Linked DNA regions of Homo sapiens. The protein of the gene in region 1 interacts with the protein of each later gene in a pairwise test. Each region holds a gene or a part of one and is shown in the gene's direction. Other genes may lie near its edges. The genes, in order: TAB1, KIFC2, NXPH3, LAP3, ACAP3, PHACTR3 and NR2C2.

Region 1 (4,575 bases):
CGCAGACTGTAGGCCCCAGTGACACATGTGCAGTCAAAGTAGTTCAGAGCCCAGGCAAACTCTTTCTTCCTCCCAGAGAGGTTGGTTTGGGGCAGGTTAGGCCCAGCAGGCCAGGAGTTGGGTACTGTAGAAACAAGGGGTGGAGTTGAGCTGGGCCAAAGCTGAGGGCAGCAACTAGTGCCACAAGGGAGGCAGGCGAAGCCAGAGTTGGCATGGGATGGACAGACCAGGCCTGTTGGTCGGTGCTGCCCATGGCTGCAGCAGAGGTGTGAGATGAATTGTGTATTTCCCTCTGAGGACACCTCCTCTGGACATCACCCCAGCGCTCATGGCAGCAGAATGGGCAGTCATCATCACACGGCCAAGCCCGTGCAGAGCTCTGGATGTACCTTCTTTTATGCATTCCCTACTCAGGCCCCCTGAGGCAGTCACTGCCATCACCCCAGAGGCATTTTCATAAGAGGAAACTGAGGCATGGAGACATCAGGCAGCCCACCCTGGTCATGGGGCTTGAACACAGGCAGCCTGAATTTGGAATATGTGTCCTTAACCGTCAGGTAACCTGTATGTGAAGTGTTGGTTGGGGAGATAGGCGCGTCCACTTGCCTGATGCCAATCATGGCATTTAATGTCATGGCCAAGGCTGTTCCCAAAGCCAGAGTTCCCATCAACAGAGGCCTCATGGCCTAGAAAGTGCATGTTAGAACTCCTTGCCCTCACGCGATCTAGGCAACTGAGTGTCGAATATTTGTCCCTAATTTGTGGGGTCCTGTTTCCTTTATTGGAAAGGACATCCATAGTTTAAAACACTTCAGACAGTGCTGGGGTCTATACAGGGAAAGGAAGTCTTCCTACACCACACTCTAGGACTCGCTGCCTCCCCAGAGGCTGCTAGTTTCTTGTGTATCCTGTTCCAAAATCTGGCCACATGCACATATACACACACGGTGTCTCTGTGTGTGTGTGTGTGTGTGTGTGTGTGTGTGTGTGTGTGTGTTTGTCCTGGGGGCCAAGGAGCCTGCATCCTTTTCGGAACACCCAGGTGCTGGGGTGTCTCTCTCTGTGTGTGTGTGTGTGTGTGTGTGTGTGTGTGTGTGTGTGTGTGTTTGTCCTGGGGGCCAAGGAGCCTGCATCCTTTTCGGAACACCCAGGTGCTGGTGTGTCCTGCCCCTCCCAGGTGCTGGTGTGTCCTGCCCCTCCCAGGTGCTGGTGTGTCCTGCCCCTCCCAGGTGCTGGTGTGTCCTGCTCCTCCTTCTTTTCTTTTTTTTTAAACCCTAAGGTGTAATTGGCATATGCAAAGCTGTGCCTATTTCATGCATACAACTTGATGAGTTTGGAGATATGTTTACACACCCCTCACTGCTATCATTAAAGGTGCTCATCTCTTCATTCTGCTCACCTGCAGTTAGGATGGCGTCATTCTGTGTAATAACCGCTCCCAGGGCCCAGCCCTGGCTGACGGACCCTCAGGAAGTTCTTAGACTCCGCTCTTCTGGATGGTGTTGCCAGCACCTCCTCATGTACTTACCTCCATGTGCACACACATGTGTTGGCATGTAATGACTCTGACCCCAGTCACTAAAGGATCCCTGTACACATGGAGAGTATCTGGGGTCTCAGCCATCTGTTTTGGAAAAGCCCAAATAATAGCAAGAGGCTTGGGCTCCCAGGGATAATCCCTCCCTCTTGCTGTCCCACACCCTGCCCTGCCACCACCGGACCCTGTGAACAGGACGTATGGAACAGGCCAGAATCGGGCATTCAACCTTTGCCATCCTGACCTCAGCTGCCTGCCAGTTTTTATGGCCTTCCAAGCTTTATTTTAGCAGCTGCTGTAAGACGATGGGTCTATTTTTCTGACCTTCTCTTTCTCTCTTTTCTTTTCCTCTTGTCAGGTTGTGTGTTTTATTTTACATTCTGGGCATAGATTCCTCCCCTCAGCAGAATCAGCATCCACCTGCGGGCTGTTCCAAGCAAAGCTCTTCCTTCCACTCTCTCCCCATAGCGCTGCCAAGTCCAAACCAATCATCGCAGAGCCAGAAATCCATGGGGCACAGCCGCTGGATGGGGTGACGGGCTTCTTGGTGCTGATGTCGGAGGGGTTGTACAAGGCCCTAGAGGCAGCCCATGGGCCTGGGCAGGCCAACCAGGTGAGTTGGGCCCAGCCACGCCCATGGCCGGAGAGCGTGGCTGGCCTGCATGGTGATGTGCTCACCCTGCCTTCTAGCACTGTGATTCTCGGAGGCCGTCACCAGACATCTCTGGGTTCAAAGCTGGGGGAAGGAGAATCCCAGAGCTCTGAAAACACCCATCCCACCCAAAAACTTGACTCATTTTAGGCTTGAAGCAGTGCCAGTCCTCAGGGCCTGAGCAAGGTCTGAAGGGAAGAGGGGGAGATGGATGTGAATTGCTATGGGCACGGCATTACTCTGAGACGGCCAGGAAGGGGCCAGGGCCAGGAGGAGAGCACAGAAAGAGATGTGCAGAGTCCTTCCCACACCCATCACTTCCTGCCAAGGGCCTGACGGCTTTACTGCCCTCCCTGAGTGGCAGACAATTTATAGTTTGCTTCTCATTTCTTTTTTTTTTTTTTTTTTTTTTTTTTGAGACAGCGTCTCCCTCTGTCACGCAGGCTAGAGTACAGTGGCATGATCTCGGCTCACTGCAATCTCCGCCTCCCGGGTTCAAGCAGTTCTCTGCCTCAGCCTCCCAAGTAGCTGGGATTACAGGTGTCTGCCACCACGCCCAGCTAATTTTTGTATTTTTAGTAGAGACAGGGTTTCACCAGGCTGGTCTCCAACTCCTGACCTTGTGATCCACCCACCTCAGCCTCCCAAAGTGCTGGGATTACAGGCGTGAGCCACCGCGCCCGGCAGTTCACTTCTCATTTCTACAGTGAGGATGGTAACATCTGCCTTTGTGAGATCGCAGTGAGGTTAGGCGTGGTAGACACAGGCCCTCAGCCAAGAGTTGCTTATTTTTCTTATACCTTGGAGTCACCAAAGTGTGACTTCAAGACAGTCACGTTAGGGATGGTCTCAAAGGAAAACTGTCTTTCCCTGACCTCCTTGGATTGCTGACTGGCTAAGATAAGTTCAGTTTGTGTTCCTCCTCCTTTCTGTGATTCTTGTAGGAAGATAACCTTTTCTGCTTTGACTTTTTTTTTTTTTTTTTTAAGACTTGCTGTGTCACCCAGACTGGAGTGCAGTGGCGTGATCACGGGTCACTGCACCCTCAACCTTCTGGGTTCAACCGATCCTCCAGCCTTAGCCTCCTGAGTAGCTGGAACTATAGGTGTGTGCCACCACACCTGGCTAATTTTGGTTGTTTTCTTTGTTTTGTTTTTTTGGTAGAGACAGGGTCTCACTGTATCGCCCAGGTTAATCTCAAACTCCTGGTCTCAAGTGATCCTCCTACCTTGGCCTCCCAAGATGCTGGGATTGTAGGCATGAGCCACTGTGCCCAGCCTGCTTTGTCCTTTTTAATTAAAAATCATGTATTGGCCGGGCACAGTGGCTCATGCTTGTAATCCCAGGACTTTGGGAAGCCGAGGCAGGCGGATCACTTGAGGTCAGGAGTTCGAGACCAGCCTGGCCAACATGGTGAAGCCCCGTCTCTACTAAAAATACAAAAATTAGCCGGGTGTGGTGGCAGGCACCTGTAATCCCAGCTACTCAGGAGGCTGAGGCAGGAGAATCGCTTGAACCCGGGAGGTGGAGGTTGCAGTGAGCCAAGATCGCACCACTGCACTCCAGCCTGAGCAACAGAGCAAGACTCTGTCTCAATCAATCAATCAATATCATGAGGAAAAAGTCTTCTTTAAAATTTGAAAATTAATTTTTATTTCAGTAGCTTTTGAGGTACCAGTATTTTTTTGTTATAGGGATGAATTATGTAGTGGTGAATTCTGAGATCTTAGTAAACCAGTTATTCCAGTAGTGTACATTGTAAGTAATGTATAGTGTTTTATAGTGTACATTGTAACTAATGTATAGTGTTTTATAGTGTACATTGTAACTAATGTATAGTGTTTTATAGTGTACATTGTAACTAATGTATAGTGTTTTATAGTGTACATTGTAACTAATGTATAGTGTTTTATAGTGTACGTTGTAACTAATGTATAGTGTTTTATAGTGTACATTGTAACTAATGTATAGTGTTTTATCCCTAGCACCACTGCCATCCTCCCGCCTTGAGTCTCTAAAGTTCCATTATATCACTCTGTATGCCTGTGCATTCCCATCATTTAGCTCCCACTTACGAGTGAGAACATAGTTTGTGGTTTTCCACTCCTGTGTTACTTAGAATAATGGCCTTCATCTCCATCCAAGTTGCTGCAAAAGACATTCATTCTTTCCTTTTACTGGCTGAGTAGTATTCCATAGTTTATAGATACATTTTCTTTATCTGCTCATTAGTCAATGGCCACTTAGGCTGGTTCCACATCTTTGCAATTGTGAATTGTGCTGCTATAAACATACGTGTGCAAGTATCTTTTTCATATAATGACTTATTTTCCTTTAGGTAGATGCCCAGACTGCTGGATTGAATGCAGATCTACTTCGAAAAAGT
Region 2 (3,758 bases), on another chromosome or scaffold:
GCTGAGTGAGGCCCGGGGCCAGGTCAGGACCCCTCCCCGCCTAGCCCCTCCTCTCTGGGCAGCCTATTCACTGTTCTTTTGACGGGGGCGTTCCTGGGGAGTTGGCTGTACTAATAAGTGGGGCTCTGGAACCCAAACAGCTTCTGTGTGACCCAGGGTGGGATTCCACTTCTGGGCCTTATTTTAATTCTATGCATACTTGGTTGACAGTAAACTCTTAAAGCATTGCCCAGAAGCACGGAGGAGACAGATGATGTGGTGTTCCTGCCTGTCATTCCTGGGCTTTATCCTGGGGTTACTCAATGATGTCCCCAGGGGCCCAGAGCCACTGAAAGTTGTGGCTTAGCACAGCTGAGCGGGCCTGTGGGGGCTCCCTGCTGCTCTCAGGACCCTCCCACCCCCCACCTCCGCAGCTCCTTGGCTGACCCCTTGCCTTCTGTACATCCCTGTTCCCTCAGGTGTCCTGGGCCTTGGGGGCACTGTCATCTGGAGGGCCTGGCACTCAGCTCCCTGAGGGGCAGCAAGGGCCCCCAGCCGGATGCCCAGGGCGGCTGCCAGAACTCAAGGGTATGACAGGCTTGGGAGCCTAGCGGGGCAGGGAGGGCGGCTGGAAGAAGTGCAGCTTCTCTGTGCTTTAGGGTCTGCGAGGCATTATGCTGACCTGATCCCCACTGCAGGAAATATCCGTGTGCTGTGTCGGCTGAGGCCAGGGACATCTTCTAGCCTTGTGAGTGTGGAGCCTGGCCCAGGGGGCACCGTCACCACCTGCTACCGGGGGCGCCATCGTCGATTCCGCCTAGACTGGGTCTTCCCTCCAGACGCCAGCCAGGAGGAGGTGACAGCCTGCCTTTGCAGCCATCCTGACCCTTTTTCAGAGTTCCCTGAAGAGCAGGAGAGGCTCCAGTTTCCCCTTCCCAGTCTGGGTGTCCACCTGGAGGAGAGAGGGTGGCTGGGCTCTAGCCAGGAAGGAAAGGGAACCGAGGGGGCTGGGAAGCAGGGCAGGCAGCCCAGCTTGGTGCCTCCTCCTCCCAGGCTTCACTGCCTGCCCACTCCCCTTTGCTGGGGTCCAGGGTTTGCCCAGCTATGAGGGCCCCTCATTGCTTTATGGCCCCAAGGCAGGCGGTGGGTGGTGGGGGCCGTGGGTGAGGAGGCAACCTTCTAGTCTTAGTGTGCTCTCTCTGCCTTGCCTGGATCCCACTCTCCTTCCCCACCCTTTTCCTGCCAGACACCTGTGGAAAAGCAGGGGCTTCAGCCCCAGCCCACCCCACTTTCACACACGTTTTCATCTGCACATGCCCTTTGCTGCTACAGCTCCCATAGCTAAGGAGATGGCAGCTCAGAGCCAGGGGAGACTAGGTAAGGGGCAGAATGGCAGCGACTCCCAACCAGGCTGCCTGCCAGCCTCACAGGGACAGGGGGACGACTGCCCAGCAGGTGGCCAGGGTCACCCTGATTGCCTCTTTTCCAACCACTTCTTCCTTCATCCCACACATCCCTCTGGCCTTAGCCCCACCCCACACTGCAGCACTGCGCAGGGCATGCCTTGTGCACCGTCCTCTGGACAGCCGTCCTGGACAGGGTCCTCTCAGTCAATGTGTCTGAACCAAAGGCATCTGTGGACAAGCCCCTCATCTGTGTTCCTGTTTCTGCAGTGGTGCCATGATGTGCTCCTGAATGTCATCCTCAGTGCCACCTCCATCCAATCATGGAACCTCAGTGACCACACAGAACACAGAATTCTAGATTCTAGCCTTGTGGCTGTCTTCAAACAGAGCTGACAGCCCACCCTGTTAGCAGCGACCTTCTGGGCATAAAAGCCAGCCATGTTGTTGCTCAAAAGACTGTTGGTGTCCAGTGCCAATGGGGTGAATGTCCTAACCTTGTGTCTCTCTCAGCACCTGTCTGTGCCTGGGCTCCAGCAGGCCTGGCTGGCCACCATCCCCCGTACCTGCAGGCCCTTCCTGGGGTCACGCCTTGTGAGCCAGGTACTGGTGTGGCCGGCCCTCTAGGTGCACTGCCACAAGTGTTCACAGCAGGTGCCACTGCAGCCCTTATCTCTCAGGGGAAAGTGAGGCACAGGAAGGCCAATGAGTAAGCTCCAATCATACCCAGGTTTGAACCGTGCAGTCACGCCCCAACATCTGGGCTCTTTTTTTTTTCTTTATTTTTGAGATGGAATCCCACTCTGTTGCCCAGGCTGTAGTGCAGTGGTGTGATCTCGGCTCACTGCAACCTCCGCCTCCTGGGTTCAAGCAATTCTCCTGCTTCAGCCTCCGAAGTAGCTGGGATTACAGGTGCGTGCCACCATGCTCGGCTAATTTTTGTATTTTTAGTAGAGACAGGGGTTTCACCGCGTTTGCCAGGCTGGTCTTGAACTCCTGACCTTGTGATCTGCCTGCCTTGGCCTCCCAAAGTGCTGGGTTTACAGGCGTGAGCCACCTCGCCCAGCCCATCTGGGCTCTTTTAAACATTTTTAAAATTTTTTACTACATATATATGTATATGTATTTTTTTTTTTTTGGACAGTCACACTTTGTCATCAGGCTGGAGTGCAGTGGTGCAATCTCAGGTCACTACAACCTCTGCTTCCTGGGCTCAAGAGATCCTTCCACCTCAGCCTCCCGAGTAGCTGGGACCACAGATGTGCAACACCATGCCTGGCTAATTTTTTTGTAGTTTTTGTACAGACGGGATTTCACCGTATTGCCTAGGCTGGTCTCAAACTCCGGAGCTCAACCAATCCACCCTCCTTGGCCTCTCAAAATGCTGGGATTTATTTTTCTTTTTTTCACGTTGGCTTCCACATTAAGGACACCACACCTGCGCTCTTAACTGCTGTCCCCAGGTCTCCTACGTGGTCTTCAGGACTCCAGAGCCTCTGCATAGGCTGTTCCTCTTCTCATTGTGTCTTTTCCCTTCTTTGCCTGGCAAATTCTTGCAAGCACCACCTTCTCTAGGGAGACAGAGGGTCTCTGTAGGACACACCCTCCCCCATGGTCCCTTAGAGCCATCCTCCCAGGAGACTAGGCTCTGCTCACACCTGCCTTCGTGGCACTCCCCACCCCACCAAATAGGGCATAAACAGGCAACGTGGGGAGGACTCAAAACACATTCTCCCGCCTCCCGCAGGTCTTCAGAGAGCTGGAACCTGCGGTGCTGTCCTGCCTCCGAGGCTACAGCGTCTGCATCTTCACCTATGGCCAGACAGGCACCGGGAAGACCTACAGCATGGAGGTGGGACAGAGCTCACGCCCCAGTGGGAGAGGCCCCAGGGGCCCTGCATGACTTGGATGTGAGCCCGGTGTGCACCCCACCCCATCCTCAGGGCCCTCCTGAGGACCCCGGCATAGTTCCTAGGGCGCTGCAGTCGCTGTTCCGGGAGATGGGGGCCGGCCGGCAGCACCGGGTGACACTCAGCATGGTGGAGATCTACAATGAGGCTGTCAGGTGGGCTACTCCACCAGGGAGGCCTTCTCCCCACCCCTGGCCCAGGGCCCTTCCGGATTTCCAGAGAATTCTGGAACCAAGACCTTCCCCTTTCTCACCAGGGACCTCCTTGCTCCAGGGCCTCCCGAGCGCCTGGCCGTGAGGCAGGGCCCAGAAGGCCAGGGCGGGATCCAGGTGGCTGGCCTCACCCACTGGGACGTGCCCAACCTGGAGACATTGCACCAGGTAGGGCTGCACCGCTCTCCGAGACCCCGCCCCGTGCTTCCACTTGGGGGCGGGGACCCTGCACCTGACCAGCCCTTCGCCCCGCC
Region 3 (4,137 bases), on another chromosome or scaffold:
AAAGAGCTGTTGCATCTTGGTATGGCCCAGGGTGCCTGGAAATGCAGGGGGCTCTGTGATGCTGTCTGGGTTTTGCAGAATCTGTCTCCCTCATCGCACTTGGCCCAGGCTGATATTAAGATTCATCTGCATTCCCCGCGCACCCGCCTGGCAGATGGTGGGGGAGGAGGCTGGGTGCGTGCCGGGGTTGCAGCCACGGGACCAAGCTGGGCCTTGGAGGGCCACAGAGCAGAGTGCCCACCCACCGTGCTCCTTGGGCCCAGCCCAAGCTGGGACCACTTCAAATGATGGGGTGCCTCCTCACCTTCATAGCCTCCAAGGGATGCCAGGACTTGACCTTTCATTTTTCTACAGACTAAAGGGACCCTGGAATTCCAGGAGGGAGACCTGAAGATATGGAGTGGGGGTGATGGAGGATGGGCCCCCATCTTTGGGAATCTCAGATCAGGGTCGTGTTCTTCCTCCTTGCCCTGGAGGTTTGCAGAGACCCCACTGGGACAGGAGCCACTCTCGGCCTGGTGACCCCTGTGGCATAGAGAGGGTAAGTAGTGAATAATGAAGGGACAGGCTCCAGGAAGGCCTTGCTCCCCTCACTCTCCAGCTTCTCAGGACCTGCCCCCGGCCCCAGAATCTAGCCTGGCCCCTAACAGCCTTTTCAGCCCAGGGGCCCAGCCAAATACTTCCTGTCACAGTGGCTGGACCGAGAAGGTCCAGGGATTATCTCAGCCCCTCCAAGTAAAGTAGAAGAGGGAAGGAGCAGACATCATAACAAAAGGAGTGCAGGCTAGACACCCAGAAGGACTTCCCTCAGCACAGGTTTTGGCTCTTAGAATGGGTTTTTTAAAAAAAGGATCTTTCTTAATTCCAGGACTCCTGAGTTGGGGGCAGGGCAGCCGATTCTTGCTGCCCGCTCCCGGGGAACGGGCGCCCTGCAAAAGAGGTGGAAACGGTAGGGTCCGTATCCCCTGGCCACCACCCTCTCCCTTCCTCTCCAAGAGCTACTCCGCCCCCGCGTGCCGTCCTCTCCTGGCTGGAGAGCCGGCGTCCTAGGTCCCCGGGCTGCGGGCCGGCAGGGGAGGAGTTAACTCCGGAGGTACCGGCTGGGCTCACTGTACCTGCCGCCGCCGCCGCCGCCGCCGGTGGGAGGGACGAGGAAGCGGGAGCCGCCTGGGCGCCAGGAGCGCTCTAGTCTGGCGGGGCGCAGCGCAGCGCGGGGAGCGGGCGGCCGGGGCTCCGCGCGGCTGGGGGCGTCCGCCAGGGGGCGCGCCGCGACGGGGCGGGTGGAGCAGCCTGGTTTGGGGAATTAGCACCAAGGACGGGCGCGCGCGCAGGTCCCCAGCACATCTGGGCGAGAGCGGCGCCGCTGGAGCCGAGGGGGGCGCCGAGCGCAGATCTGGAGCAGCAGAGCCACGGCGCAGCTGGGGCCCTTCGAGGCGCTCGGGGCGCACATCTGGGACCTCGAGCGGGGGCCGTGCCGCGCGCAGCTGGACCAGGGGAGGGGGGCGGCGGCTGCACAGCTGGACCGAAGGGGGCGGGGTCGGCCCTGGGCGACCCGCTGAGGGGAGGGCCGCGGGCCGCCGGGGACTGGAGCATGGGACGGCGCGCCTGAAGGAGCAGGAAGGGGAAGGAGGCCTGGGACCCCGAAAAGAGAAGGGGAGAGCGAGGGGACGAGAGCGGAGGAGGAAGATGCAACTGACTCGCTGCTGCTTCGTGTTCCTGGTGCAGGGTAGCCTCTATCTGGTGAGTGGTCCGAGGGGAGCTGCGCAGAGGGGCGGGGGCCCGGAGGATCGGGGGAGAGCGCGGGAAGCTTGCGAGCCCTGAAACTTTCTCCCTTCCCCCGACATCCCGGGGATGGCGGGGAAGACTGGAGGCTGGGGGAGAGGGCGGGTCCGAGGCCGGAGACTGGACAGATAGGGTTAATAGGGGCGGGGAGAGGGTGCTTGGCTGGCCCACCCACTCCGCAGCGGGTGGCTGGAGGTGCGACCAGCGCTCGGAAAAAGGCCTGGAGCCGGGTCGCCAGGGTTACCCTACCCCTTCCCAGAGCCTCAGGACCGCTGAAGCCGGGGGCGAGTGGGGCGCGGGTCGTGGAGCTGGTGACCTGCAGGCTTTTCCCCTGACCTCTGGGACTCAGAGAGCCTCGGGTTCTGGGTCCCCCAGAGCACAGAGCCGGTCCAGGCGGGGGGCGGCCCCCGCGTCCCTCCCCTCCCGCCTTCCCTCCCGCTCCCTCCCTCCCCGCCTGTTGTTTTCCTCTGCTCTCCCGGCTGCGCGCAGCCGGAGCCCCACAGGACTTGGGCAGGCGGCTCCCGCCCCAGGCACTCGCGGCAGCTGAGCGGAGCGCCCAGAGCCCGCTCCCCGTGCGCCGGCTCCGCGGCTTCTCGGCGACCCAGGGCGCCGGGGATCCCCTCCCCGAACCCAGCCCGTGGCTTAACTCCCCTCCGACCGAGCGCCCGCTGACCCTCCCCGCAATACTGTCGTGAAGCCTCAGCCCCACATCTGGACCTGCCCCTTTAATCAACAAGCCCCTTGCCACCGCCCCATGCCACTGTGGGAAGAGCCCTTCCCTTCTCACGGCCCCACCTTTACCCTCCAGCCACTCAGCCGTGACCCTCAGGAGCAAGTACCTACAGGTCTGCAGCCCTAGACCCAGACCCCGAGCCTCCCGTCCTAGCCGTCCCTCTACCCCACCTCTGGGGCCTGGCAGTCAGGGCCAGCCTGAACTGTGGGGCAGAGACAGACTCGGCCACAGCACACAGCTGCCGGCAACACCCAGGCCAGAACACAGGCATGAGGACCCCACAGCCCCTTGGAACCCTACTGTCCCCACCCCAGTGTCACCACCAAATCCAGATGCCCCCCGGTGCTGGTAGTAAAGACACCTAGGGCAAGTGGTTGCTTTCAAAAGCTGAGCAAACCCACAGCCAGGCTGCGCCTCAGGAAGCCCTGTCAACCCCCTGATGCCCCCCACTGCTGTCCCACTCTCCCTGTGGCACCTCCAGGAATCTCCCAGGTGTGGGTTGTCACCACAGCTGATCCAGCAGAGGGAGGATGAGCCCCTGCAGATTCCAGAGGCGGATGGCGCCTGGATAAAAACCCTTTCAAAAAGACACATCTGATCTGTGAGGCCAGGAGTGTGGAGTGTAAAGGAAGGGCTGACCCTATGTGAACTCAGCCTTGTAGTGTTGTAATCTCTGAGCCCCAGTGTCCTTATCTGTGAAATGGGAATAAGAACTCCTACCTCAGAATGCAAGTAACATCGTGGCATGTCATCATCAGTGTACCCTGGAGAGGTGTTTGGCTTTCCATTCCCATGGCCATCCTGGGTGTGGCATTCACTCCGGGTCTCCCCTAGTTCTCTTGCCAAACCTAAACTATATTCGTGCTTGAGAATTACACTGTGTTCTGCTTTCTTATTCCATTGTCTGGTGGTTCTCTTTGCATCTAAGGGTAGAAATTATCCTAGGGTAGGGACGGTGTCTTACCCAACAGACTAGGAAGTCCCAAAAGGCAGGGGCTGGCCTCTCCTGTCAAACCAGGGGCTCTCCCAGGATAAGAATGGTGCTTCCCTGTCTGACTCGGGGCTGTTTCAGAGCAGAGATTATGCCTCCCCCATCAGCCTGGGGATTTCACAGAGGCAGGGATTCTACTTCCTATCAAATTGGGGGCTCTGTCAGCACAGGGATGATGCTTCTGCAATTAGATGGGGGCTCCCCAAGATCAGAAGCTGGGCTTCCCCCATCAGACTGGGGACTCCCTAGGGGTAGGAGCCGTTGTCCCTGGTGCCACAGTTCACTGGAGAGAATTATTGTCGGTCTTTGAGACTTTGAATTTGAATAGTGGCCAAGACAGTGAGGAAAGGACAATGGGGGGGGGGGTGACCCAACTGTCAGAACCTGAGATGTACACAAGCTAGAGTGTACACTTGCCCCCCAGCTTCAGTGGGCAAGACGCAGGAGCTCCTCACCCAGGTCAGAGTGAAGTGGCAGGGACAGGGGTACTGCTGGTAGCGGGGGTGGTGGACCTCCAGGGACAGGGCTCTCACTGTACTCACAACTCCCTCCATAGGTCATCTGTGGCCAGGATGATGGTCCTCCCGGCTCAGAGGACCCTGAGCGTGATGACCACGAGGGCCAGCCCCGG
Region 4 (4,575 bases), on another chromosome or scaffold:
CAGAAACCCAGGGCAATGTCCAGGACGGGCAGTGATGGGTCTTGCTTTGGCAGGAATCTGAAACACTTGGGCAGGTGCACATGTAGCTGACCCCAGCACCTGCTTCTTTTTTTGCTTTCTTCTGTCCATGGGGAGGACACGGTTTGGGTGGAATTATTTGTTCCTTCTGGAATTTGGGGACTCCTGAGCCTCTCTAAGGGATCTACTCTAATTCTATTATATTTACGTTTTTTGCTTATTCCCAGGGCCTTGTTTTAGGAATCTATTCCAAAGAAAAAGAAGATGATGTGCCACAGTTCACAAGTGCAGGAGAGAATTTTGATAAATTGTTAGCTGGAAAGCTGAGAGAGACTTTGAACATGTAAGTGTTGCTTGTGGGCTCTAGTTCTTAAAGTGCCCCCAAATCGAAACAGTATTTTTTCTTTCTTTTCTTTTTTGAAACAGAGTCTTGCTCTGTTGCCCAGGCTGGAGTGCAGTGGCACGATCTTGACTCACTTCAACCTCTGCCTCCTGGGTTCAGGTGGTTCTCGTGCCTCAGACACCCAAGTATCTGGGATCACAGGCATGCCTCACCACTCCCGGCTTTCATATATATATATATATGTATTTTTTTTTTTTTTCAGTAGAGTTGGGTTTCACTGTTGTTGGCCAGGCTGGTGTTGAATCCCTGGCCTCAAGTGATCTGCCTGCCTTGGCCTCCCAAAGTGCTGGGATTACAGGTGTGAGCCACTGTGCCAGGCCAAGAATATTTTTCTATGCCTTTTTGTCAGAAGAGACAATGCCGGGAAGTGCTCTGGCCAGAAGCAGAAGTGAAAGCCTGTGTCTTTGGAATGCACTTTGGTACTTTCTGTTTCAGTATGGATGGGTCTGCAGTTCTGGGAAGTCAGGCCATTTCCAGCCCAATCAGAAATCTATTGTGAAAGACTGATCCAGAATAATCTGGAAAGTACCAGATTTCCTCAGCCCACCCTCCTGGCTCAAATTCACTTTCCCCACCCTCTTCCTCCCAGCTGCCTTCCCACCAGCCTCTCTACTTCTTTTAACTCCCCTTTTCTTGTGAGAGCAGGATCCCTAGGATAGTTAATAGCAGCCTAAGGGTTTTGCTCTTTTATTGCCTGCCTGAAGTTTCAAGGGCTTCTCAAAATTTAAAATATCTGTGAATCACCTGAGGATATAGTTAAAATACAAAAAGTCTCCATGGGGCTGGAGATCCTGATGGTAGGGAAACATTGTAACTGCATGCTGTATTTGGCAGACATGGAAGTATCCATGTAAACCACTGCAACTATGTATTATTCGGATTATAGATAGCCTATTGGAACCTAATAGATGCAGTCTAATAATTATAGTAACTAATAATCGGTTAAGAGAATTTGTATCTCCTCTCAATTTTTTATCAGTTCTTGTAGTACACAGAGCATTCTCAAGTGCATTGATTAATTCATTAATCCAAAAGCTAACCTGTGAGTACAGAACGCCTGCCTTGCTAATGGATGGCTGTCAGCTGCATTCCAGAGCATCTGTGCTACGGGCCTCTTATAGTCATGGATCTGTTTTGTTTGGAAATTGCCCAGGATAGTCAGTATCCGGTTCGGGTATCCAGTCTGTGGAGAAACCACATAGATATACAACCTCCAAGCCAACCACCACTTAGATTACTGCAGTGTTTTTGGTGTCTTGTGGCTTTTATTGAAAAAGGTTTGAGATTCATTCGGTTCAGCGTCAATCCGTGCTCAGATGCCTTGTGCAGCTGTAGCATTGCTTTCCATTGTTTTTAAATATGTTTGTGTTAGATCTAATCTGAAAGTTTGTTAAATAGTTTTTGAGCTAGAATTAGAAAGGCTACACCTAAGAAATCTGGGCTGGGCACGGTAGATCAGCAGTGTAATCTGTATTACACCTGTAATCCTAGCACCTCGGGAGGCTGAGGTGGGAGGATTGCTTGAGCATAGGAGTTTGAGACCAGCCTAGGCAACAGAGTGAGACCCTGTCTCTATTTAAAAAAAAAAAAAAGAAAGAAATCTGGCTTGAGAGCATTCTGTATTTGGATAAAAACATAAGTGAAAAAGACCATGGAAGCAGTTAGCAGAATAGTGTGATAATGCCGAGTATGTAAGTGTGCCTTCCCAAGTGAACCGAGCAAAATACTTGTTTTAAAACGACTATTTCCTCTTGTTTTAGATCTGGACCACCTCTGAAGGCAGGGAAGACTCGAACCTTTTATGGTCTGCATCAGGTATGAGAAGAACGTGATCATTTGGTAAACCCTCAATGAGCATCTACTGTACACCAAGTATTGGGGCTGTCTAGTCATACTAAACATTATGTGTTGGATTGTATGATTTTATTCCACTATTAAGCAGAACATTTAAGATTAAGAGGCGATTTGCTGTCAAAAACTACTGCCTATCTTATATTCCTCAATCTGAAGGCTTTCTTTATCCGGTTGTGGCTCTGGCTTACACAGAATTATTTGCAAGAGTATCCTCACTTACTCTGCCTCTCAAACCTATAAGTTATACAATTTTGCCAGGACACAAAGGTTTTAAGAAAAAAAAGCCACAACCAAATTTCACCGTGCGTTTAGCCCTGTTGCTGCAGTTAAAGTAATTGTGTGGGAGCTCAGTGAGTCTCCACATGTAGAATTCCTTGCTGGAAATGAATGCTTGAAAGAAATAAAGTGGTTGATTTGGTGTATCTGTGGGACAGGACTTCCCCAGCGTGGTGCTAGTTGGCCTCGGCAAAAAGGCAGCTGGAATCGACGAACAGGAAAACTGGCATGAAGGCAAAGAAAACATCAGAGCTGCTGTTGCAGGTTATTTCACTTTTTAAGTTTAAAGAATCCTGAGGATCCACTCTTTTTGATGACCTCTCTTTCCCCTTTTTGTCCTTTTACCAGTTGCCACCCCTTACCACGTTCACACAGAAATAATTCATCTTAACAAAAATTCAGTTCCTCTTGCTGAATATGGTTGGCCTTATGATAAATACAGAAGGTTAGCTAATGGAATTTTATTTTTAATATATCTATATCTCATTTGGGTGTTTTACTACCATTTGTTCGCTCTTGTCATATTAGAGCTGTGTTTTCCCAGAACCTGTAGTGTATAGATTTTTTGTAATGCCACCCTGATGCCTCCCGACTTTTAAATAACACAGAGTCATCAGATTTTACAAATAAAGAGACTAAGGAAGCAAAGCGTGGCGTGCTTGTTTATCACTAGCCAAAGGTGTGTGCCTGTCCCAGTATGTCCCAGGCAGGGGCCATTGAGTCACTTAGCATTAAGCAGCAGGACGGGCCTAATACCGTCAAGAGCCATGATTAAAGATGCTTTGTAAAACATTTCTGAAACAGTGATAATTGGCTTGATTACTATTTAGGCCTGTGTATATTATAAATGCTCATTAACTTTACTTCAAATATCATTGAAGTGGTTATTTAATAACTTTTGAGAGTTTTTGCTGACCTGATCTTAATAAAATGCTGTGTTAATAATGGACTTTGCTCAGTTCTTTGGATATAATTTCAGCGTCATCATTTCCCTGTCATTTTTAATCAGAGAAGCTCTTGGCAATTGGGAAGCTTCATCAGGAAATCATAGTGTTTCAGAAATAATCCTAGGAATAATTGCCACTTCCTGAGAGCCTGTACGGCTCTGGGAGGAGCTATTCATTCTCTCCATCAGCCTGTCCTCACCACCACCTGGGAGTGAGGTACTTGCTGTAAAATGCACTCACGTCTTCATTTTACAGAAGAGGAAATGAGGCTCAGAACATTCGGGTATCAGGGCTGGGATTTGAACCCCAGGGCTGTTTTCTCAGCACATCACATCATGCCTCTGCTGTCTGCTCTTTGAGTTGTCTTGGACTGACTCCAGTTTTCTGATTCCTCTGTCTTTTCAAGCGGGGTGCAGGCAGATTCAAGACCTGGAGCTCTCGTCTGTGGAGGTGGATCCCTGTGGAGACGCTCAGGCTGCTGCGGAGGGAGCGGTGCTTGGTCTCTATGAATACGATGACCTAAAGCAAAAAAAGAAGATGGCTGTGTCGGCAAAGCTCTATGGAAGGTGATGGAAGCAAATTAGGAGGAGGGTGGTGCTCCCTGGCGTTCTGACAGCCTGGCTTTTGGGATATGAGCTGCCTGCTTTTCAGCGCCACCCACAGCTGCGTGGCTTGGCTGTGACCTCCCCATTGCCTCAGCCATTTTAATAATGTGGTCAAAATTAAGCCCAAGCTCTGCTCCTGGCTCTCGGCATATGTCTGATTCCCCCATGACTCCCTGACCCCTCCCTGCTCTGATTACAAGGAAGCCATAACCAGGTAGCTCTTACCTGAGAGGGAGGAATGACATGACAGACATATCCCACAGGTTTCAACCCAGATAATGTTCATTCATTTACCTGGCACCTGCTGGCCTTGTGCTAAATGCAAGCACCACACAGATGAAGAGATCCTCTGGATGCTTGGTCCTTGCCCTTGTGGGCTAGTGGGGTCCCTGCCATCAGGAATAAATAAGATGAGACCTTCAGCAGATGGTGCCAAGCACAGTGGGGGCCCTGGCACTGGCCAAGGGTTGGC
Region 5 (3,776 bases), on another chromosome or scaffold:
CTTCTCCTACTTCGACGCAGGGGCCGCAGGGGCTGGCCCTCGCAGTAAGTGTGGGGTGGGCCCAGCCAGGTGGCAGGGCAGGGCCAAGGAGGCTGGCCTGAAGGGTGCCTGAGTGTGGATGGCCCTTGCCAGGGAATGGAGCAGCATCTGAAGGGGCGGGGGGCCTCCTGGCCACACAGCTGGAGGCCAAGGCCCTGACTGTCAGGGGTGAGCTGTGCAAATGTGTGTGTGGGCTGTGTGCACCTGGGTGTGTGCACACAGCGGGTGGCCCGGGGTGCTGGGGAAGCAGAGGGCGCTGCCAGCCGGCCCTCAGCCTAGGGCCCTTCTGGAGCCATGCTGCCCGTTGGTTGGGTGGAGACATTTCAGCCTGGGCCAGCCACAGACGGGGCTGGGGGGCCCACTGCGGGGGGTGCCGGGTAAGGCGGCGAGCGGGAGGGAAGGGCTTCCCAAAAGGCCTGGGCTTTAGGGGGCTACCCCTGGCACCTTTGAGCTGTTATTTGGTTTTCTCTCCTTTGCTCCTAGCCTGCAGCTGGCTCCCCCCGGCCCTGGGTGGGAGCTGGTCCTGTCCCTAGGGGTGGCCCCTGGAGGGTGGGTGGAGTTCCAGCCTTGCCCCAGGGCTCTGGACGGAGTCTGGGCCTCCCACCCTCAGGACCCCCTTCCCTGCGGACCTGCAGGTCTGAGTAGCGACAGTGGCCTTGGGGGCAGCTCGGATGGCAGCTCGGACGTCCTGGCTTTCGGCTCGGGCTCTGTGGTGGACAGCGTCACTGAGGAGGGTGGGTGGCGTCTTGCCCTCGCCCGAGGCCCCTGCCCAGCCCCTGGGCAGCCCCGGGGGTTGCTTTCCCTGACCGCCCCCTCCCCACAGAGGGTGCAGAGTCGGAGGAGTCCAGCGGTGAGGCAGACGGGGACACTGAGGCCGAGGCCTGGGGCCTGGCGGACGTGCGCGAGCTGCACCCGGGGCTCTTGGCGCACCGCGCAGCGCGTGCCCGCGACCTTCCTGCGCTGGCGGCGGCGCTGGCCCACGGGGCCGAGGTCAACTGGGCGGACGCGGAGGATGAGGGCAAGACGCCGCTGGTGCAGGCCGTGCTAGGGGTGAGCGAGCCACGGGGGCTGCGCGCAGGACACAGGTGCACAGTCGCGTTTGCATCTTCTGTGGCGCCCACACAAGGGTCGCCTGTCCGCGGTGGGGACCACGTTCGGTCCCGGCTGGGGGCGCCCAAGGCCGGGGTCAGGGTGCAGAGGCGCGGAGAGGGGCCGGTGCCGTGGCTCCGTCTGAGTTGCCCCGGCTCCCCAGGGCTCCTTGATCGTCTGTGAGTTCCTGCTGCAAAACGGAGCGGACGTGAACCAAAGAGACAGCCGGGGCCGGGCGCCCCTGCACCACGCCACGCTGCTGGGCCGCACCGGGTGAGACGCGCAACCCACGCCCCGCCCTGTGCCCCGACCACGCCTACCCCGGCCCGGCTACGCCCTGTCCGCCATGCCCTATCCGGCCACGCCCCCGCGACCACACTCGCCCCGCCCCGCCCCGCCCCGACACGCCCCTCCGACCTCGCCCCTCAGCCAGGTTTGCCTGTTCCTGAAGCGGGGCGCGGACCAGCACGCCCTGGACCAAGAGCAGCGGGACCCGTTGGCCATCGCAGTGCAGGCGGCCAACGCTGACATCGTGACACTGTGAGCGCGGCCGGGCCCTCGGGGCTGGGCGGGGCCTCCAGGGCAGGGGCGGGGCCTCCAGGGCAGGGGCGGGGCCTCCAGGGCAGGGGCGTCTCACGCTGTGCCTCCCCGTAGGCTCCGTCTGGCGCGCATGGCGGAGGAAATGCGCGAGGCCGAGGCTGCCCCTGGTCCCCCGGGCGCCCTGGCGGGCAGCCCCACGGAGCTCCAGTTCCGCAGGTGTATCCAGGAGTTCATCAGCCTCCACCTGGAAGAGAGCTAGGGCCGGGCAGGCCGGGCAGCTGCCACCCCGCCCGGCCCGACGCCCCGCATGCCCCGAAGTCCCTGGCGCCCACCCGGCCGCGGCCCTGCGTGTGACCCGCGGGTCGATACCTGGCAGCCCCAGTGCTGGGGCGCCGCGGCCCTGCTCGCCCAGGAGGAGAGCGAGGGCCCCACACTGAGTCTCTTGAAGCCTCACGTTTCCCTGGGGGGGTGCTGCATCGTCGGGTGTCCCTCACCCCACCTGGGGAACCTCTGTCTTCAGGTCACCCCTTTTCAGGGGCCTGGGTTGCTCATGTCACAAGCCACTTTTAAGGCCCGTGTCACCTGTGTCCCTGTGTCCTCAGGGCCTGTGTTACTTCGTGCCCCACTTCTGCCCAGAACACTGACCTGTTAGCTGGCTCCCTCCTGCACACCCCAGAGCCTCCTCCCAGGGCAGAAAGGGTGGCCCATCCAGGGAACCAACGAGTACCTCACTTAGTGACCCCAGCATCCAGGCTGGCGTCGCGGGTGCTGGGCGGGAGGGGCTCTGGCCTGGGTCCTCAGCCCTGGCTGGACGCGGGCGTCCCAAGGCCACGTGGCTGGCCACGAAGGTCCCCGTGCCAGACAGCCCCAGCCGCATCCCGGCCTCCTCCGGAGGCACCTTCTCCTGGTACTCGGCCCAGAGCCTGCGCATAAAGCCACTTTGCCACTTTGCAGCCCTCATCTCATGTTCTTTGTAGCGGACCGAGTGGGTTTGCTATAGGCCTCGTCTGACTTTGTCTTGCGTCTTTTCTCTGTGGACTCTTGAGGACGCCTGAGCCCCAGCCCTGCCCCTGACCAGCCTCCCCCTTGGGTCCAGGGGTCTTTCGGCTCATATTGCAGGGCCTGCCAATGCCTTCACGCACCCCTTCCCCAAAGGTGCCCGGCAGGGAGGCAGGGCCTCCCCCACTCAGCGCAGGTCAGGCTAAGGCCAGTCGGCTGGTCACTATGCAATGCTGCCCTGGGGAGGCTCCCTGAGGGCACAGTGGGCGCTGGACCCGGCCCCCCAACTCTCTTGCCTGCTGCCTGTGACCCTGAAGAACAGAATTGATTCTTGCCCCTCTCCCTGTGTGAGCTTGGCCCCGCCTCTTGCCCCAGGCCCCTGCTGGCGGGTCTCACCCCCCACCCCTCGCTTTGAATAAAGCACTTGCGCCCACTGCCTGCTCCTGGGCTCCCGTGCCTTGCTCTGCTCTGTCTCCGGGGAGTGTCTGTGTCCCTTGCCCTCCCCGAGGGGCATTCCTGAGCCGGGTAGCACTCACTCAAGTCAGACTCCAACAGGCCGCAAGGGGCCTGATGGGGACCTGGGGCTCGTTTGACAAAATCTGGGTCCTGATGCCCCTGGTCCCCATTGTCTCGCCCTTCTACCCTTCTCTGTCCTAGACTGAGTTTCCTGGTGGGAAGAGGGGTGGACGCGAACCGGCGAGGCTAGGCTGGGGCTCGTCCCGCCAGGTGCAGTCAGGGTTTCAGCTCACCGGGCGCGGGGCGGCTGGAGGGGCACACAGGCACACACTGGCCGCCAGGTGGAGTCAACAGCTTTATTTCAGAGCAGCCCAAGTGTGTCCGTGGGGCCTGCCTTGCCTTCTGCCTCCCTGCAGCTGAGGTGGCTAGGCTTGACACACGTACACAGGTGCATCAGACGTGTGGACATGCAGACACAGACACACGGAGCATGGGTACATCACCGCGTGTCGGCACGTCCAGCCGCACTCGTGTGCACGCGGGAACCCCCCTCCGCCCCGGGCCTCCTTGAGACCCACCCCAGGCAGTGTAGGTGGTTTGACCAGAGGCGCCGACATGCCCGGTGCCTGCCTCCCCACGGCCGCGTGTGCTGC
Region 6 (4,575 bases), on another chromosome or scaffold:
TGTGCAGAAGCTGGGGATGGGTCTCCCTGCAGCCCCTGCCCTGCCTGGCCACTTCTTGCATGGCTGGCTCCTTGTCATTTCTCAGGTCTCAGCTCAAAGTTTCCCTCTGCAGAGCAGCCTTTCCTGACCTCCCTCTCCCAAACCAGCTACCACCTCCCCCCGACCAGCCCAGTACTCTCAGCCCACCTGCGTGGTGCCCTCTCGCCCCCCTCCCTCCACCACTCTCTCTCCCAGCCCTTTTCTCTCCCTCTCCTTCTGTCTCCTTCTCTATTCTACAATCATCTGCTCTCTTTCTGTCTGCCTGGCCTCTGTCTGTCTCCACCAGCTGACGGCAGGGCCTGGCCCGTTTCCCTGTGGCCTGGCCTTGTGTGGCCAAGCAGGTGCTTGTAGAGAAAGCGAAATAACTAAAGTCCTCCACGAGGTTTACAGTTTCCTTTTGGGTTTTGAGGAATACTTTTTATTGATGCTGTCCACATCCCAGGATTGTATTGGAAGTTTGTTTCTGGTTTTTAGGGAATGGGGTAGTTTAGATCTGGTTGTTTTGCTGGTGGGATTAAAGGGATCTGGTGTTTGCACCAGTCCTGCCAGGACGCTTTTGGAATGAGAGTTTGTGCTGAACACCTAAGAGCTTCTGGGCCTGTGCCAGCTGCTAGGCTCCTGAAAAGGAGCTGATGGTCTCATTTTACAGGCAAGTAGGCTAAGCCTTTGAGAGCTTCAGTGACTTGCCCAGAGTCTTGCATACTGGGAAATGGCAGATCAAGACCAGAGGCCAAATCTGCAGAAGACAAAGCCCATGCTCTCTGCTCTTCCGGGCACCTGACACCCTGCTGGCCCGGAGCACATGCAGGAGACTGTCATTGATGGAAGGAGGGGGTGTCCCACTCATTTAGACTTGAATGAGCAAAGCCTGTTTAGAATCATCTTCAAAGTCATTTCATGTACACAAGTGTTTATTGCCCGTGTTTTAAGTGCCAGGCCTGGGGAAACTGTAGGAAGGAAGGTGGACACAGGCCTGCCCAGGAGCAAGAAACAGACTGGGCAGCGTGATTCACTCCAAGTAAGAGGAAAAGTGTCAGGGCAGGCTCAGGTCCCAGGGGACAGGAGACGAGGGATCTGATCATGGCCTCTCTAAGGAAATGGTATTCTAGCAGAGGAGCGGGGAAGCATTTCAGGCAGAAAGAACAGCCCATGCAAAGACTCAGGTTGGACGGAGTGTGGTGCCTTCAAAGACGGGAGAGATCTTCACATGCTGGAGTGAAGAGAGTGAGGTGGAGATGCAGCTAGGGAGCCGAGTGGGGCCACCCCCAGGGGCCTTGAGACTGGGCCATGAGTTCGAATCATGTCCTAAGGAAGATGGGAGAGTGATCCAATTCACCTTCTGGGGTGATCCTCCTGGCAGAGATACAGGGAGAGGGTTGGAGCCCAGAAATTTATTCCTTACTGTTCTGGGGGCTGGAAGTGCAAGCCCAAGGTGCTGGAACAGATGCTGTGGGGAGGGCAGAGCGGACCATGGTGCTCATCCAGGCTGAAGGGTGGCTGCACAGATTCTTCCGGGTTTCCCAAGAACAAGAAGCAGCTTCAGGAAGCTGAATTCATAGCAGAGAAGCAGGAAGGAGGCTTTTCTAAGCCCAGCGCCCTGCAGGGAGGATGCTGGTGCTGGTGTCTGCAAGGCTTGGCCCCTAACAGGGTTTGCCCTACAGATGGAGCAGAACTGGACAGAGATGCACCCTGGCCTCTAGCTTTGGGAGCAGGGATCCCGGTCCAGCATCTTGGCATTAGTTGGGGCCCCTCCTGGAGGTGCAGGGGAGCGTCCTTTCCGCTCATGGTCCCCAGTCTCAGCAAAACCCTTGGTCCCAGCTCCTGAAGACCTATGTTCTTGCTGCTTCCTCCCACACCCCAGGCCAAGCCACACTCTTCCAAGCCTCCAGCATGAAGAGTGCCGACCCTTCCCTCCGGGGCCAGCTCTCCACACCCACGGGGTCTCCGCATCTCACCACGGTCCACCGGCCTCTTCCCCCAAGCCGCGTCATTGAGGAGCTGCACAGGGCGCTGGCCACGAAGCACCGCCAGGACAGGTGAGGCCCTGCCCCATGAGGGAGACCTGTGCTGCCAGAATCCCTGCCTGGCCAGCCTCAGGCTGTGCAGCTCATGCCACGCCCAGGGCCTTGGCTGGGTGTCCCGTTCTACAGTCACTTTCTGAACAAGGAAGTCACATTTTCATTTTGCACCTCGCTCTGCAGATTGCATAGCTGATCTTGGTTCCCACATTCTGGGACGGGGTGCACAGTGAATGTGCACTATGGGAACCTGGCCACAAAGTCCTGTGCGTGAGCCCCTCAGGACCCAGGGTGGGGTGGGAGCTTTGCAGGAGAGACTGACTTAGAGAAAAGTGGCCGTTCCACTTTGTCCCAGGACACTGAGGGCTTCATAGTTGTCACTGGGCAAGAGTGTAAGGCAGCCTGTGCCTGCAGCTTACTCTTATTTTGGATCACATGTGTCTCATGGACTGTGAAAGATTAGAGGTAAAATAGGTAATAGGAGACAGTATGGGTTGGAGGAATATTAGACAAACAAAATGTCCTTCTCAGTTTTTGTGAAGTCCTCGCCCTGAACATTGATTGCATGTATTTTGGCAGGTTTTATTACTTGCATGTTCTGTGCTTTTCAAAACAGCATGTTGTAAACAGCCATTTGCCTTGAACTCAAATCCTCATGCTCCTTCTGGTGTGTCCAGGATAAAAACCAAGAGGTCACATGCATTTTGGGGCTGCCTCTGTGATATTCATTATAAGCTCCAAAGTCAATCGTGCTGGGTTTCTGGGTGAAGGGGGTGACCTATAACCTGAACCATCTTTCTGGTTTAGTTTTCAAGGAAGAGAAAGTAAAGGGTCTCCAAAGAAGCGGCTGGATGTCCGTCTGTCGAGAACGTCCAGCGTGGAGCGGGGCAAGGAGAGGGAGGAGGCTTGGAGCTTTGACGGGGCATTGGAGAACAAGCGAACTGCCGCTAAGGAATCTGAGGAGAACAAGGAGAACCTGATCATAAATTCTGAACTCAAAGACGACTTGCTTTTGTATCAGGACGAGGAGGCGCTGAACGACTCCATTATTTCTGGTGAGGAAAGGATGGCCCATTAAGTGTGGGGATCTCGGCCAGAGGTCTAGTGTCACCAGGGGGTCGAGGACAGAGCTCGTGCCTGGGGGAGGAACAGGTCGAGGGGCTGCACCTGGGGAGAAACAAGAGGGGGGCTGTGTCCTCTGGAAATGAGCTTCTCCTGAAACAAGCTGGGGTGGGGGTGCACAGCCAGGCTTAGAGCAAGGAACTAGAAAATACCCCGGTGAAATTGTTTTGAGAGTTGCATATTAGTTTTCATGTGTATGTGAAAAAAAAAAACAACATAAAAGTGGTGAAGCAAGTGACTTAGAGAATGCCACCCCTGAGGATGCTGTGGCGAACAGTATATAGTTGGTGTACAGATGCTCAGTGTACAGAAGTTATAGCAAAAACAAAAACAAAAAAAAACTGTAACAAGTAAAGCAGGACGAGATGGAAGCAGGGGGAGAGGGAGGAAGAGAGATTGCTCTATTGATCTCAAATGGCCGTCTCAGAAGTGCTGTGGATGGGACAGGCAGCATACGCTTGTTTGGGAGCAGATGCTCACAGGGTCCTTGGAAGCCAGCTCCGTATTTGTCCTCATGGTGCGTTCTCCCATGAGGTAATTGCTCCATCCTACCCTTGAGGACTCCGGGGCTCGGGACGATAGAGGCCTGCAGACCACCCTGTGATGAAGGGAGAAGGAGGCTCAGGCCAGGAGGAGGAAGTGCTGAGGGGGTTTCCCTCCCAGCTGGTACTGGCTGTGCGGGGCCCTCTGATTAGTCCCAGGAAGGTCCAGGGCGGCCGTGGTGTTTGGCCTGCAAGGGAAGGATCAGGAAGCGTCCGTTGCTGTTCTTCCTGGAAGCATCTCATGGTGACTGTTGCGGGCATGGGCAAAGCTCAGGCCACGTCTCCCTGGGTGTCTGTGGGGAGCAGGAAAGGGCATCAGATGTCGGTGCTGACCCTGGCTGGTACTGAAGGCATGCGGTGGGTACTGTGATGGGTGGATAGACCGGCAGCCCAGGGCTCCATAGCCTCCCGCTTCCTGCTGCTTTGGAGCCTTTCCACCGGGTCCGAGGAAGCAATTCTGAGTATGTGGCTGCACAACATGAAAGGGGTGGGGGTGCTGTCACCTGTGCGTTTGGAGGAGGCTGACTGCCACCGCGGAACCAGTGTCTTTGTGGCAGAAACTAGGAGCTGGTCACTGGCCTGAGGGCACCAACCTCTCTGAAGAGGCTGGAGCCTGTGGTGTTCCCAAACTCGTTAGGCCCTGGAATCCTTGCCCTTAAACACCTGTGAGCCTCCAGCAGGAGGGTGCTATGAGGGTGCACTTCTGAGTAGAGCTGGTGTTGGGATGGTCAAGGGCTAGAGCACGGTCCCTCAGCCTCAGCGCTGGTGGCAAGAGGCCAGGCGATTCTCTGCTGGGGAGGGGGCTGTCCTGGACACATTAGGATATCCTGCAGCATCCCTGGCCTCTCCACACT
Region 7 (4,575 bases), on another chromosome or scaffold:
CACAGACATAAAATGTTTTAGTGTTGTGGTTAGCAACTCCCCAACTTTTACTAGCAGTGTGATTTTGTGTAAGCTACCTTTCCTAGCCTCACTGTCCTCATCTGGACAATAATAGAGCCTTCCTTCCTGAACTGAAGATTAGATGAGTTAATGTAAATAATAGAGCTTAGAAAAGTGCCTGACATGTAGCAAATACTGTGTAAATAGAGTTATTGTTGTCATTATGAACTACTGGTATAGACATTGGACTAATTAAGTGATATAAATAATGAAATTTTTATGCAGTGTGGTGTAGGGGCAAAAACAATAGATTCGAACACCGAGATTCTAGTTTTGGCTCTGTGCTTGCAGCTAGTTACATGGCATCCAGGACAAAAGTTTGGAAAACAAAATAATGGAACTAAATAGTACTAACCAAAGTATAGGGTGCTTTATGATTTACAGAACTCTCTTACAGGCAGTATGTTGTTCAGGCGCCACTAGAACCCACGTAATGGCAGAGGCTTCCTGTTCCATGTTTAAAAACCTTTCCAAGGCTTTTCATTATTTTCTTATCTGTGGTACCCCTAGCTTCCTGTGCTCTAGACACACTGGCCTACCTTCAACTTCCTTGACCAGTGTAGCTTACAGTGTAAGCTTACCCCCCACCCCCACCCTACCTCAGATATTGGCTCAAGCATCACTTCTTCAGGGAAGTCCTAATTCCCATTGCCAGTCTAAATCAGATTCTTTTTATTCTTTTCTTTATAATCTTTATCTCACTTTATAATTACACACTCTATTATGTGATTATTTGATTAATGTCTGTCCTTACCACACTGTAAGCTGTGAGAGCAGGAATACATTTTGTTTACCATTACTTATCCAGCACTTAGAAGAGTGCCTGGCACTATTTGTTGAATGAATTGTTGATAATTTATGATGTCACTGATAACTAAGTTGCTGTACATTGATGGATACCTTTTGTGTGAGCCTCTTTGGCAATTCAGATAGCACTGCCAGCAATAATAAGCCTGTTACGGTATTTGGTTGAATTTAGCAAGTGATTTCTGACAGATATGCCACTTTCTGGAGACATAAATATGGATAAAATGACCCATTTCAATAGTTTTTCCCACTCATTTTTTTATGATTGAATTACAAGTTTAAGTGCATGAAAGTTAATAAGTTCATATGTGAAGAAATAAATAGCCCAAACATAACTTATGTTATTTACTTTAGCTGAAGAAACGAAGCACTAAGCTACCATGATTTTCTTGAAATCAAATATTCTGATTTTTGTCTCACCATCACAGGGGATTGGAGAGAAGGAACAAGCCTCCAGTGGGTTCACAGGGAATTGGGAGTTGAAAGTCTCTGTAGCCATTAATTCGGGATATTTATCTTTCTAAAGATAAATTGATTCATTTAATGAAATTATTGAAAATCACCTTTTAATTGCTTTACCAAGGTTAAAAGCAAATTTTGTTAAGTATACATCAAGTTTCTACTCGAAAGTGTGGTAAATAAAACATTTGTATTAACTTATTTTATATTGTAAAACTTTTAAAATAAGATATTGTTATGGTATTTTAAAAATAATAATAGTTTAACTGTTTATTTTTGGGTTTTTTTTTCTGTCTTGCTCAAAGATTTTTGGTATCACTTGTTCAATTCCTTAAGCTAATTACTCAGGGTAACCAAAGAACTGCTAGTTTAGTAAAACAGCTATATGTTGTCTTACATCGTTAAGTTATTTATTGCTTTCAGTAGTTGTATTCACAGTGACTTTTAAGTTTTGTTTCGTGATCATTCTTTTATAGAAAATCCCTGTGCGTAACAACCTCCTCACTTTATGAGGATGGCTGGAAGTTTTTTTTGTGTGTTTTTTTTTGTTTTTGGGAGTCTCGCTCTGTCACCCAGGCTGGAGTGCAGTGGTGCGATCTCGGCTCACTGCAAGCTCTGCCTCCTGGGTTCACGCCATTCTTCTGCCTCCGCCTCCCCAGTGGCTGGGACTACAGGTGCCCGCCACCACGCCTGGCTAATTTTTGGATTTTTAGTAGAGACGGTGTTTCACCATGTTAGCCAGGATGGTCTCAAACTCCTGACCTCGTGATCCGCCTGCCTCGGCCTCCCAAAGTGCTGGGATTACAGGTGTGAGCCACTGCGCCCAGCAACTGGGAAGTTTTTAGCATCTGTCTCCAAGGAGTAACATGGCAAGGGCAGTGCAGTGACAGAGCTTGGGCTATGAAGGCAGAAAGGCCTGGCTTCAGAACCTGGAGTTGGTAGCCTCTCTGAGGCTTATAATTCCCCATTTGTCAAACAGGGAGGTGGGAGCCAGCATTGAGATTGGGGCCAGGGATAGCGGATACTTGTTGTCTGAATGACTTTGAGAACAAGGGAGGTGAGTCTTTGTGGAGCAGCCCTGTCTTCAGCCGTGGCACTGAGCCACTGGTCTGTGTCTAGCTGCCTGAGTGTCTCCACATATCGAGGGCCCTCCGTTGGGATTTTTATTGTTGAGTTCTCTTACCTATAAGCCATACGCTCCTTTAGTCCCAAACCATCTCCTGTACAAGTATCATCTTAAAAAATACCACACGGGGGGAGTCCGTGAAGGAATCTTAGAATCTCAGAATTGGAAGTGGTCTAGACCCCAAGTCCAGCCTTGATGTAAGGATCCCCTGCTAGATTTTCGTTTACCTCTTTTTACTTTATTGCTAATTATGAGGGCCTTAAATGATGCCTTTTTTCTTCCCTGTGTGATCATCATCTTTAACTTAATGGATACATTTGTGCTCCTGTTACACATTGTAAAAGATATGTTCTTCCTTATTCGTTGGAGGTTTGCTTGCCTTCAACTTAATATGCCAGAGGCTGAGATTCTCTGTCATTCTCTCCCATCCTGCCACTCTTTCCCCATATCCCACTATTGCTACCCGAGGTAGCAGTCCTACTCCCCTTGCTCACTTCAGGTCCTGAGTGCTAGAGAGTAAAGCAGCAGGAGCTCTATACCAAAAGGAAGAACTGCCCAAGAACAACAGCTCAACTAGCACAGCTCAACAATGATGAGGAGTGGGAATGACTAGAGGGATGAAAGCCAGATCAGGGCATTGGCGTAGGCATTTGTTAAAGGTACAATAAATGCAGATGCAGACCCCTGGTACCTGGAAGTCTTAGAATAGAAGGATGGGAGGTGAATTGTTAAGGACAGAAAGGGAATAGGCTAGCTCAGACACTTAACTGTTTTTTCTGTGTTACCCTTGGACTCCAGTTGGCCTGTAATGATGAAAGTCAGCCTCAGAGGCAAGTGTGATTTTTTAGGGGCAATAAAAAGTACCTCCTTCACTGTAATAAGAGGCCTGAAGTCCTTTAATAGGAGGTGAAACTTTCTATTCCATAATTATTAACAGTTACCTCAAAGATTCTAATCCCTGAAATGTTAACATGTAGATGGAGAGGAATTTCATTCCAAGTGCCCAAGTGTAAAAGAATATTTCCCCCCTGTTTGCGTTAGTGAGAGGTGTGAGAAAAGGTCTTGGGGCCTGGAAAATGGGGTGACTGCTGCTGAAAAGTGAAGAGAAATGAGAGGCTGGTAGGGCTAGACTCAAGCCTGAAGGCTTCCTGGTTTTACAGGGAGCTGCTTTATTTACCTTTGTTGTTCATATGTTGATAAAAGCTATGCAGGGGAAAAAGTTTCCTACCTGACTGCCCACCCATGTTCCTTAAAAAGAAAGATTCACGTATGGCCAGGCGTGGTGGCTCACCCCTGTAATCCCAGCACTTTGGGAGGCCAAGGCAGGCGGATCATGAGGTCAGGAGTTCAAGACCAGCCTGGCCAACATAGTGAAACCCCATCTCTACTAACAATACAAAAAATTAGCTGGGCGTGGTGGCAGGCGCCTGTAATCCCAGCTACTCGGGAGGCTGAGGCAGGAGAATCACTTGAACCCGGGAGGTGGAGGCTGCAGTGAACCAAGATCACGCCACTGCACTCCAGCCTGGGCGACAGTGCGAGACTTCATCTCAAAAAAAAAAAAAAAAACAACTGAGGCTGGATGGCTCTTGAGAAGTTACACAATACTAGCGGGCTTCATGCTGCATTTCCCCCAGTGTATTTGTTGTATAGTGAATCTGATTAGGTATTATTTCTAGAACATTTTGGATATGTCATTTGTACCACACTCGTTCTTGTCCCCTGTCCCACCACTATGGTGTCTGTAATGATGCATCTTTTTATTAGGTTGATAAGATGACTAACCCTGGAATTGAAAAATCATTTTTTAATTGATTGCTTTACCAAGACTAAAAGCAGATGTCACAAAGTATATATCAGCTTTTAACTGGAAAGGCTAATAATTAGACTGTGTTGTTGACTTATTTAATATAATACAGATTTTTAAAAATAAAATAAATTTATAATATGTCTTTTCTAAAGAAATAAACAATGTACTTTCTCGAGAATAAAAATTAAAAATAGATAAAAGTAAAACAGTTAATTTTTAAAAATAGTAAAATTTTCAAACGAAGAAAAGAAAGCAGTACATCAAAAGGCATGTGTGAAAATGTTCATAGGAGCACTAATCATAAGGACTCCAA

The links.
Region 2: the proteins of TAB1 (region 1) and KIFC2 interact in a two-hybrid assay, tested with the Homo sapiens proteins (one large-scale study listed by BioGRID and IntAct).
Region 3: the proteins of TAB1 (region 1) and NXPH3 interact in a two-hybrid assay, tested with the Homo sapiens proteins (one large-scale study listed by BioGRID and IntAct).
Region 4: the proteins of TAB1 (region 1) and LAP3 interact in a two-hybrid assay, tested with the Homo sapiens proteins (one large-scale study listed by BioGRID and IntAct).
Region 5: the proteins of TAB1 (region 1) and ACAP3 interact in a two-hybrid assay, tested with the Homo sapiens proteins (one large-scale study listed by BioGRID and IntAct).
Region 6: the proteins of TAB1 (region 1) and PHACTR3 interact in a two-hybrid assay, tested with the Homo sapiens proteins (one large-scale study listed by BioGRID and IntAct).
Region 7: the proteins of TAB1 (region 1) and NR2C2 interact in a two-hybrid assay, tested with the Homo sapiens proteins (one study listed by BioGRID).

What each region holds. Positions count from the first base shown.
Region 1 is NC_000022.11:39,419,822-39,424,396, forward strand, and holds part of TAB1 (TGF-beta-activated kinase 1 and MAP3K7-binding protein 1), read left to right. Parts: intron 1-2,005; coding exon 2,006-2,150; intron 2,151-4,575. UniProt on the Homo sapiens protein: Key adapter protein that plays an essential role in JNK and NF-kappa-B activation and proinflammatory cytokines production in response to stimulation with TLRs and cytokines.
Region 2 is NC_000008.11:144,468,813-144,472,570, forward strand, and holds part of KIFC2 (kinesin-like protein KIFC2), read left to right. Parts: coding exon 1-22; intron 23-458; coding exon 459-567; intron 568-677; coding exon 678-835; intron 836-1,652; coding exon of another isoform or gene 1,653-1,778; exon of another isoform or gene 1,779-2,217; intron 2,218-3,129; coding exon 3,130-3,234; intron 3,235-3,325; coding exon 3,326-3,447; intron 3,448-3,548; coding exon 3,549-3,672; intron 3,673-3,758. UniProt on the Homo sapiens protein: May play a role in microtubule-dependent retrograde axonal transport. May function as the motor for the transport of multivesicular body (MVB)-like organelles in dendrites.
Region 3 is NC_000017.11:49,574,534-49,578,670, forward strand, and holds the start of NXPH3 (neurexophilin-3 precursor), read left to right. Parts: upstream 1-1,337; 5' UTR 1,338-1,686; coding exon 1,687-1,740; intron 1,741-4,062; coding exon 4,063-4,137. UniProt on the Homo sapiens protein: May be signaling molecules that resemble neuropeptides. Ligand for alpha-neurexins.
Region 4 is NC_000004.12:17,579,579-17,584,153, forward strand, and holds part of LAP3 (cytosol aminopeptidase), read left to right. Parts: intron 1-245; coding exon 246-361; intron 362-2,181; coding exon 2,182-2,236; intron 2,237-2,709; coding exon 2,710-2,815; intron 2,816-3,904; coding exon 3,905-4,064; intron 4,065-4,575. UniProt on the Homo sapiens protein: Cytosolic metallopeptidase that catalyzes the removal of unsubstituted N-terminal hydrophobic amino acids from various peptides.
Region 5 is NC_000001.11:1,291,715-1,295,490, reverse strand, and holds the end of ACAP3 (arf-GAP with coiled-coil, ANK repeat and PH domain-containing protein 3), read left to right. Parts: coding exon 1-44; intron 45-674; coding exon 675-773; intron 774-862; coding exon 863-1,089; intron 1,090-1,291; coding exon 1,292-1,401; intron 1,402-1,557; coding exon 1,558-1,668; intron 1,669-1,782; coding exon 1,783-1,927; 3' UTR 1,928-3,100; downstream 3,101-3,776. UniProt on the Homo sapiens protein: GTPase-activating protein for the ADP ribosylation factor family.
Region 6 is NC_000020.11:59,771,379-59,775,953, forward strand, and holds part of PHACTR3 (phosphatase and actin regulator 3), read left to right. Parts: intron 1-1,900; coding exon 1,901-2,075; intron 2,076-2,864; coding exon 2,865-3,112; intron 3,113-4,575.
Region 7 is NC_000003.12:14,949,891-14,954,465, forward strand, and holds part of NR2C2 (nuclear receptor subfamily 2 group C member 2), read left to right. Parts: intron 1-4,575. UniProt on the Homo sapiens protein: Orphan nuclear receptor that can act as a repressor or activator of transcription.